Linked DNA regions of Homo sapiens: region 2 is linked to region 1. Evidence: fine-mapped expression QTL. Tissue or cell type: whole blood. Region 1 holds a variant in brackets; the other region holds the start of a gene. All regions are shown on one strand. Distances are from middle to middle.

What was found. PIP is the estimated chance that this variant, and not a neighbour inherited with it, causes the effect.
Region 2: it holds the start of MICU2, and the variant in region 1 is fine-mapped to the expression of MICU2 in whole blood (TOPMed, PIP above 0.99).

What each region holds. Positions count from the first base shown.
Region 1 is chr13:21,498,383-21,503,382 of GRCh38, forward strand. It overlaps MICU2 (mitochondrial calcium uptake 2), which reads right to left. Exons shown (of 12, transcript NM_152726.3): 9 at 4,544-4,715. Among named protein-coding and RNA genes, the nearest start is that of ZDHHC20, 42 kb to the left of the region's middle. The variant A/G (reference allele first, on the strand shown) is at 3,116.
Region 2 is chr13:21,601,825-21,606,824 of GRCh38, forward strand. MICU2 (mitochondrial calcium uptake 2) reads right to left here and starts at 2,346. Exons shown (of 12, transcript NM_152726.3): 1 at 2,115-2,346. The coding sequence starts at 2,324. RefSeq lists enhancers at 1,440-2,059, 2,060-2,678, 2,460-2,529 and a silencer at 2,080-2,289.

The DNA of each region.
Region 1 (5,000 bases):
TTTTTTTTTTTTTTTTGAGACAGTCTCGCTCTGTCACCCAGGCTGAAGCGCAATGGCGCAATCTTGGCTCACTGCAACCTCTGCTTCCCAGGTTCAAGCAATTCTCCTGTCTCAGCCGCCTGAGTAGCTAGGACTGCAGGCACCCACCACCACGTCCGGCTAATTTTTGTATTTTCAGTAGAGATGGGGTTTCACCATATTGGTCAGGCTGGTCTCAAACTCCTGACCTCAGGTGATTCACCCACCTCAGCCTCCCAAAGTGCTGGGATTACAGGCGTGAGCCACCGCGCCTGGCTAATATTCTATTCTTATTAAAGTGTATACATGTACACACACGTCTCCTTGTTTTACACAATGGGAACAATCTCTTCACATATTTCTGTACCTTGCTTTATTCTCTTAACAGTATATTTACAAGATGATAGAGAGGGAAAAAAGGAAAAAAAAAAACCAGTGTATTTATCAGCACAAATAAGAGTGGCTGCTTCTATCATGACCTCGAAGTAGGCACTGGATGCAACTTTTTTGATGTCTGCTTTTCTGATAGATGAAAAATGGTATTTTATTAATGTTTGAATTTGCATGTCTTACGGAGTCTTGCTGTGTTGCCCAGTCTGGAGTGCAGTGGCGTGATCTTGGCTCACCAGAACCTCCGCCTCCCTCATTCAAGCGATTCTTCTGCCTCAGCCTCCTGAAAAGCTGTGATTACAGGCATGCGCCACCACGCCCCGCTAATTTTTGTATTTTTAGAAGAGACGGGGTTTCACCATGTTGACCAGGCTGGTCTCAAACTCCCGGCCTCAGGTGATCCACCTGCCTCGGCCTCCCAAAGTGCTGGAATTACAGGTGGGAGCCATAGGCCCGGCCTGAATTTGCATGTCTTCAATTGTGAATGAAGTTAAACATTTTTCACATGCTTATTAGTCATTTGTGGATTTCTCTTCTTGTGTCCTGTTTATGTCCTTTGCCCAGATTTCTAATGGGTTGTTAGGTAACTTACTGTGCGAGACCGTTCTCCATGGGTCTCACATTTCTTTTTTTTTTTGAGATGGAGTCTCGCTCTGTCACCCAGGCTGGAGTGCAGTAGCACAATCTCGGCTCCCTGCAAACTTCACCTCCTGGGTTCACACCAATTCTCCTGCCTCTGCCTCCCGAGTAGCTGGGACTACAGGCACCCGCCACCACGCCTGTCTAATTTTTTGTATTTTTAGTAGAGATGGGGTTTCACCATGTTAGCCAAGATGTTCTCAATCTTCTGACCTCATGATCTGCCCGCCTCGGCCTCCCAAAGTGCTGGGATTACAAGTTTGAGCCACCGTGCCCAGCTGGGTCTCACGTTTCTGTACATCTATCAGAGGCACCGACTGCATTTTTGTTCCAGATTATATCTTCGAGGATTTCACACCTGTAATCCCAGCACTTTGGGAGGCCGAGAGTTTGGGACCAGCCTGGCCAACAACACAGTGAAACCCATCTCTACTAAACATACAAAAATTGCGAGGCATGGTGGTATGCGCCTGTAATCCCAGCTACTCAGGAGGCTGAGGCAGGAGAATTGTTTGTATAGCGGACAGCACTGTTCCTCAGGAGCACAGGACAGCTTTGCTTACTGTCCAGTATCATGAATACACAATGCCTCCCACTGCAGCAAAGCTCAGGAAGGCTTGTTTACTTGCCCATTACAAAACATTCAGATCACTAAGATGAGGGTCCTCAGCTGTGATGTGAATCTGCTGTGTGGGCAGCATCTACCTGGGCCTCTCAGCATCATGCCCATGGGGCTTGGGAGGCAAGGGGGAACTGACACAAATATGTTACTCATGTTGTTGCTACATTACGATAATAAAATTCTTTGTGTCTGACTCAATAGTCTTGTATCTTCTGCAAGCATCCATGAAACTGTGCAGGCTAACCTGCAAAGGGATAAAATTTCAGACACTTTACAGTTATTCACATGTTGATTTTCAAGTTCTCATGATATATTAAATAGGGAAAAAAAAATCTCAGACCGTTTAAAGTTCTTGATACCTACTGATTTTTTTTTTTTTTTTTTTTTTTTTTTTTTTGAGACAGAGTCTCACTGTTGCCCAGGTGTGACCTTGGCTCACTGCAACCTTTGTCTCCCAGGTTCATCCAATTCTCCCGCCTCAGCCTCCTGAGTAGCTGGGACTACAGGTGTGTGGCACCATGCCCGGCTACTTTTTTTTGTATTTTTTGGTAGAGATGGGGTTTCACCATGTTGGCCCGGCTAGTCTCGAACTCCTGACCTTGAGAGAGCCACCCACCTTGGCCTCCCAAAGTGCTGGGATTACAGGAATGAGCCACCACGCCCGGCCAATCCCTACTGATTTTTAAAGATCCCATTATAAATTAAGAAAATTGGTCTTTACATATCAATATCTCCCCCTTCTTCATGTTAACTTTTTATTTTGACTCTCATTATAATTTTTGCAGGGGACGAGGTGAGGCAACAGATTTTAATTTTTAGGTATTTCATCAAGTTTTCTTTGAAAGGTTTTGGGTTTTGCTTAGAAAGGTATATAACCTAAGATGAAACATTGTTTCCATGTTTTCTTCTACACTTACTCAGTTTCATTTTTTCAACATTTAATTTTTTGATTCATCCTAAATTTATTTTAGAGTAATGAATGGTGTAAAGATTTATGTTCATTTTCTCCCTCAGATGGCCAGTGAATTATCCTACTGCCATTTATTAATAATTCTTTTACCCAACTAATTTAAAATACTATTTCATAATTACTAAATTTTTCATATGCTTAAGTCTATTTCTGGAGTCTGTCAAATTCATTGTCAGTAACAAACTGTTTTAGTTACCAAGGTTTGATAATATATTTTAATATGTTGACATTCTTTTCATATAAAGTCTTTTTTTTTTTTGACACAGAGTCTTGCTCTGTCACCCAGGCTGGAGTGCAGTGGCGCAATCTCAGCTCACTGAAAGCTCTGCCTCCAGGGTTCACACTATTCTCCTGCCTCAGCCTCCCGAGTAGCTGGGACTACAGGCACCTGCCACCATGCCTGGCTAATTTTTTGTATTTTTAGTAGAGACGTGGTTTCACCGTGTTAACCAGGATGGTCTTGATCTCCTGACCTC[A/G]TGATCTGCCCGCCTTGGCCTCCCAAAGTGCCAGGATTACAGGCGTGATCATATAAAGTTTTATAGCTTGTCTAGTTTCTTCCCAATAATTCAATGGTATTTTTATTGAAACCCACGAGTATTCACCAGTATCTGGATCTTTTCTGATTCCTGCACGTACGAAAGACTGAAGTTCCTTGCCTCCCTGCATTCAGGTGGGGTTATGTGATTAGTCTGGCCAATAGCCAAGTGTCATGTGATGTTTCCAGGCCAAAACATTTAGTTGCTGGATTTTGACTCCCCTCCTTCTTTTCCTGCCACAGCCTCTGAGCGTGGTACTTCTTTCAGATGATGTAACTCCAAGATGGCACAGCCTCAGAGAGTCTAGACCTCTGAATGGGTCTAGACCTCTATGCGGACAGAGACTCCTATCAGCCCACAATGGAACTGCGGCATGACTGAGCAAGAAACTCAGTGTCAGACAGGGGGATTTCAGGGTTAATTTGTAACTGCAGTAAACTTGGGCTGTTCTAATATAACCATTACACTTATAGACTAACTGAAGACAGAATTGCTGTATTTATAATTCTAAGACTTTCTATTCAATAATAGGGGATGTCTTATAATTAGATAAGTTTTCTTTTTATATCCATCAAGGCTATCAAGTTTTCTTCTTTTTTTTTGTTAAATTTATTTCTAATTGTTATATATTTATCTTGCAGTTATAACTGGGTTCTTCTACTGCAATTTATTTTTTTCTTACAATAGAAGTAACTTTTTAAAAAGTTACATAAAATACATGTCCATTGTAAACATTTTTTTGGAACAATACATAAAGGTATAAAGAAAGAAAGTAAAAATCACTTGAAACCTCACCACTGTACATGAATAATTATTAATAGCTTGGCAATCATCATTTCATACATCTCGTATATATATACACACACATATGCATGTCATTACATTTTCTACTTGTAATTTGTATATAGGAGAGCTGCTGCTGCTTATATATTAGCATTGTGACAGGTACTTTATTGAATTCTTATTGTTTCTACGGTTTTTCTACTGGATTCTCTTGGGTTCTCTAGGCATATAATTGCATCATATAAAAACAAAGACAACTACTACCCCCTTTCACATTTTTATACTCTTTTAAATAATCTTGTTAATTTGGACTGGTTAAGATTTACAGAGTGATATTAAATAACAGTAGTGATACTTGTCTTATTCTTGACTTTACTGGAAATGGAAAACTTGTAATTGCTACACTGATTCTGTCTTAGGCAGTTTTCCTTTACAGGAGAAGAGCATGTAGAGAACATTCCTCAAGTTGATTTTATATACCATCGAGGGTAGCACAGTCTTGGTTAATTCAGAAGTTACTTTATGTAAACATGTCTAACTTATTATTTCATCTTTATCACATGCATAATAAAAGGGTATACCAACCTCTCCTGCTGACAACTTCTCTCTCACATTTTTCCAATAAATATCTTTATTTTCAGTGTTAGTGAAAAAAAGTAGCCACTCTGCAAAGTCTTCTTTTCTCATGAAACTCAAACCTTTAGAAAACTGAAGGAATTCCATTTCTTGAATCTCTGTTTGTAAATTTTCCATAAATCTGAATGTTAAAATACAAAATTAGTAAGGTAACTAGTGGCATTCAACCTTAAATATTGTAAATGGGTCTGCAAAGTACCTTCACTATTACCTACTGAGTGGCTGCCTCCTGATGGTAAGCAGGATGAAGCATTAGTGCTGTGCAAGGATTGTGGGGAGAGGAAGGATGCAGAGAAACTGATTAAGTCCAACACTGGCTTCCATCAGTAACTCTCTATACTCAACTTGTTTGTGTAAGTTATACCTGGCAACCTACATTCTGATAAACCTAAAGACTTAAAAAAAT
Region 2 (5,000 bases), 100 kb after region 1:
GCCGGGCGCTGTGGCTCACGCCAGTAATCCCAGCACTCTGGGAGGCCAAGGCAGGCGGATCACGAGGTCAGGAGATCGAGACCATCCTGGCCAACATGGTGAAACCCCGGCTCTACTAACAATACAAAAAAAAATTAGCTGGACGTGGTGGCGTATGCCTGTAATCCTAGCTACTTGGGAGGCTGAGGTAGGAGAATTACTTGAACCGGGGAGTTAAGAGGTTGTAGTGAGCCGGGATCACGCCACTGCACTCCAGCCTGGGTGACAGAGACTCCATCTCAACAACAAAAAAAAAGTGCATTTTACTCTTGGCAAAATGAGACACTGAAGAAGGGTTTCTGAAGAAGGGTACACTGTGTGGTTAAAGTGATACTCCGGAGAAGATTAACCTAAGGGTCTTAAAAACAGGATGAATCGGCCGGGCGCAGTGGCTCACGCCTGTAATTCCAGCACTTAGGGAGGCCAAGGCGGGCGGATCACGAGGTCAGGAGATCGAGACCATCCTGGCTAATACGGTGAAACCCCGTCTCTACTAAAAACACAAAAAATTAGCCGGGCGCGATGGCGGGCGCCTGTAGTCCCAGCTACTCGGGAGGCTGAGGCAGGAGAATGGCGTGAACCCGGGAGGCGGAGCTTGCAGTAAGCCGAGATAGCGCCACTGCAGTCCGGCCTGGGCGACAGAGCGAGACTCCTCTCAAAAAAAACAAAAACAAAAACAAAAAACAAACAAAAAAACCAGGATGAATCTAGGGGAGAGAAACTAATGATGAATACACTGAACTCCTTGGCACAAGATTCACAAAAATGCTATAAAAACACTAGATAATAGATCTTTCCATTATATATGTTTACAATATAATTATAATGTATGTTAATACAAATAAGGAATATCAGTTGCCAATACTTAATTTTAACTCACAAGGCCTTCTTTCCTCTCTTTTTTGTTGTATCTGAATGTTCCTTGAGTTTTTCGCTAGAAAGGCATAATGTAAATCTAAAAAAGAAAATAATAAACTACTACTTTCAATTTTCAAAAAAGCTCATATGTAAAAACTTACTAAGTCTACAAAAATTTTAAAGCACTACTCATTCAAATTTTCAAATGCGTTACAACATCATTTATCCTGAAATAGGGAACTTGAATCTTTTTTTTTTTTTTTTGAGACGGAGTTTCGCTCTTGTAGCTCAGGCTGGAGTGCAATGGCTCGATCTTGGCTCACTGCAACCTCCGCCTCCCGGATTCAAGCGGTTCTCCTACTTCAGCCTCCCGCCACCACACCCAGCTAATTGTTTATATTTTTTAGTAGAGACCGGGGGGGCGGGGCTGGGGTGGGGAGCGGCTTCACCATGTTGGCCAGGCTGGTCTCGAACTCCTGACCTCAGGAGATCCACCCGCCTCGGCCTCCCAAAGCCCTGGGATTAAAGGCGTGTGCCACCGCGCCCGGCGGACTCTTGTCTTTAATAGATGGAGGTTTTAGGAGCAATTTTTGCTTAGAACTTATGGTCCACTAAGATATTAAGGTTTATAATCATGCAATAATGTTCCTTAAAGTTGATAATAAAATCTGGAAATCAACTGGTTAATTTTTGTGGCTGACACATTCGTGACTTAAAAAAGCAATCGACAGAACTTCATCATGCTATACAAAGAAAAGATCGTAAAACTTAGTTGCAAAGCTTAACAAAGGTATATCCCACAGGGGTAACTGGACGCAAACCACCTGCGGATGTGAATGCCACTTCACTGACCAGAGAGGTAGCAAGAGGCGAGGCGCAGTGAGATTCTGAATTAGGAGCCTCGAATTAAGACACGCCCACACTCATCACCACTAAATTAGTGCGGCCAGTTTTGTGGGCCGTGGTGTTCAGCGTCCGCGGGGTTCTCCCAAGGGAGGCAGAATCTCCGGTCACCAGCCTCGAAGGCCCTCGGGGACTCAGGCCGGGGGCCGGTCCAGGAAGGAGCGAGTCCCACCAGTCGCAGGGCGCTCCGATCCGCAGCGGCACCTCCACCCACGGCTCCGGGAGAGCCGCCCAGAGCCAAACCACTCCCCGCCTAAGGGCGTCAGGGGAGGGAGGAGCTTGACTGGGGCTAGCAGAAGGAGTTAGTCCTGTACCTGTGCGGAGACTGTAAAACTGCCATCCCGCGCCGCAACACTGACGCGGCTGTGGTGCCAGGCCGCTCCTGCTCCTGCCAGGGCCGCGCCGGCCACTGCCGCTGCCAAGGGGCCGGGACTCCGCACAGCCTGTCGGCTGACAGCGAGCCCCCGTCGCAGTTTTCCGCCCCAGGCCGCCACCCGCGCGCAGCTACCCGCAGCCGCCGCCATCTTTGCGGAAGCGCAGCTAGGCGGCGCTTCTCTCCCGGCGCCGCCGCCTACCGCTTGGGAACTCTCGCGACATCCGACAGGCTTCCGCCCCGCCTACCGGGCCTGCGCCGTGGGTGCGGTTGCTGAGGCGACGCTCGCAGCCGCAAGAGGTGGCCTTCGGTTCCGGGGCTGCCTTCTAAGGCTGTGGGGATGGGATGACAGGAAGAGTATCAAGACAGTATAATATGACTTCCTAGTCCAAAACAAGATAGTGCCCTCGGTTGTGTGGGCAGGTTTCTCCTTTTCATTTTTTCACCTTGTAAAACTGTGAAACGTTTTTTGAAATAGTCTCTTCTGCATCTGTGTTGTTCATGTCTTCCTATGCTTATAGTCTTGACTGTTCTTTCATTTCTGCTAAAACAACTCTCAGACAAGGCATTCTGTTTATTTCAGTCCCTCACTATTTGCTTATAATGAATTTAAATTCAGTTTCAACAAAAGGTTTGATAGTAGCTCTTATCCTACCTAGAACTAAAAGTCAGAGACAGCAGCACACCAGCCCCATGTCTCTATCATCAGGGACCCAGAGGTTTTCCCCAGTGCAGATTTAGAACGATACCTCCAGTCCTGGCTGTTGCATTGGTGATAAGTGATGTAGCTGAGGCAGACTACTTGGTTTTATTTAACAGCCTCCAATCCTCCATTCTTTGGTCTTCACTTTTCCTGAGTAACTCTTTTTAATAAACTCTTTGTTCAGCCTCTGAAATGTCCCCAGCTATTAGAAGCTTTAGTTGGGCATGCAGTAACGGAGCCAACATCAAAGGGGCCAAGACTCCTAATCACATAATCACTGCTGTCTTGAAGTTTTGCACAAAACAAAACTTCAAGAAACAAAAACAAAAACCTGTCACACGAAATCTAATTTGATCATTCAGTGGAAGTTCCGTGGATCCCTTTGTTATTATCTGCCCTTAATCCTTGCTCCCTTTCTCTTAGCCCGCTTGTCTAAATTAATCTGCAGTCAGAGGTTCCTCACTTTTCCGTCAGCTTCTGGACTTACTTTTCAGTGTGCCTTCCCAGGTAGGAAGTAGAGAGATGAGCCTCACTTCACCGACTTGTGAGCCAGACCTCAAGGTTTGAATCTTAGCTCTACCAGGATGATCACTGTGGTTTGGGGCAAATTATTTAATCTCTCTGAGTCTCCATTTTCTCATTTGTAAATAACTCACGATTTGGTAGATGATCACTGCTATTTGGGGTAAGGTATTTAATCTCTTTGAGTCTCAATTTTTTCATCTGTGAACAACCCTCTTACAGTTTGGGGTGGGGAAGCTAAATGAGATATTTTATATAAAGTGACTAGCCAAATGCCTGGCACATGGTAGGCTCATGACAGATGTGCGTTTACTGTGGTCAAGGTTTGGTTTACTTCTGCCCTGTGAACACAAATGAGCTTGACTGAATGTCCATGATTCCAGATCACTAGCCCATCTTAACCTGAGATTTTCCTGCTTTTTTGTATCTAGCCTGACTTTGTCAACCTCTGGACTGTTTTTCACCTCTGCTAACTCTGGTAGCTTTGGCACATGTCCTGCTTTTCTGGACTATTGACATCTAGCTTGTTTCCTGGTGATAATAGGACTTCCAGGATATTTTGGACACCCTGGATGTCTTACCTTGTAGTTTATTCTTGATTTCCAGAAACCACAGTCTTTACGTGTATACTTCTAACTGCCTCACACAGTTCCTCTAGGTATTTAATGAAACCTGGCATCTATTACTCAGTATTGCCTTAAGCCCAAGATAAGTTTAGATTCCCATTAAAACATGTAGCATATTTAAGAACATTGTCTTTCTCCCACAATTTGACATCCTTGTGGGTGAGATGTCTTCCTTTTCCCTGTTTCTCTAGCACCTAGCACAATGCCCAGCACGTAATAGACATTCAATGAGTGAGTAAATAAGTGAATAAATAAATGGCACAAATGAAACTCAGGGGTTCATATTTCTATGCTTTGGCCATCCAAAATACAGAAGTATATTATTCCTTTGGGGTACTTTATTTTCAAAACAAAAGCTTCTTTTTATTTTGCCAAAAATCTTTGAACCCACTTGGAAAACAGTGTAATTAGTTATTTTTTAAATTTTCATTATGTGCCCAGGCATCTAGAACTCTCACTTATAATTTAATGTATTCAAACTTTTCTTATGCAGAGGAAACAAATTCTTATAATAGAACCAATCTCTAGTCGAATAACCATTCTAAGTATGAAATCTTCCTTGGCAGCTGCTGACATTTGTCTAAGCACATTGACTATATTGGTCTTTTTGGGCTCCAGCTTTGTTCATTTCTTCATCATCAGCTGTAAAGTCCTGGGCTGGGATGTATTTTCAACCATGCAGTTTATAAACCAACCCCCAAATAAGAAGCTGCTTCTAAAGCTGTACATTGTATGCTGTTTTAAATAACTGGACGAAAACAGGATGGAAATACTTATTGTTTCAAAGTATTCTTAATTCACTTACTCCTGCTCTTTTTTTCTGAAGAAGAACGAAAGTGATATGTCAGAAAAACTGCTCTTAAGGAGCTTTATTTTCACTGGAGAGGCTAGGCTTGAATTTCAAAACAATTGTCTCTGACTTTTATACTGTACAGAGAAGCAAGGGTGAGGTGGGCTGGCACAGGCAGAAAAGCAT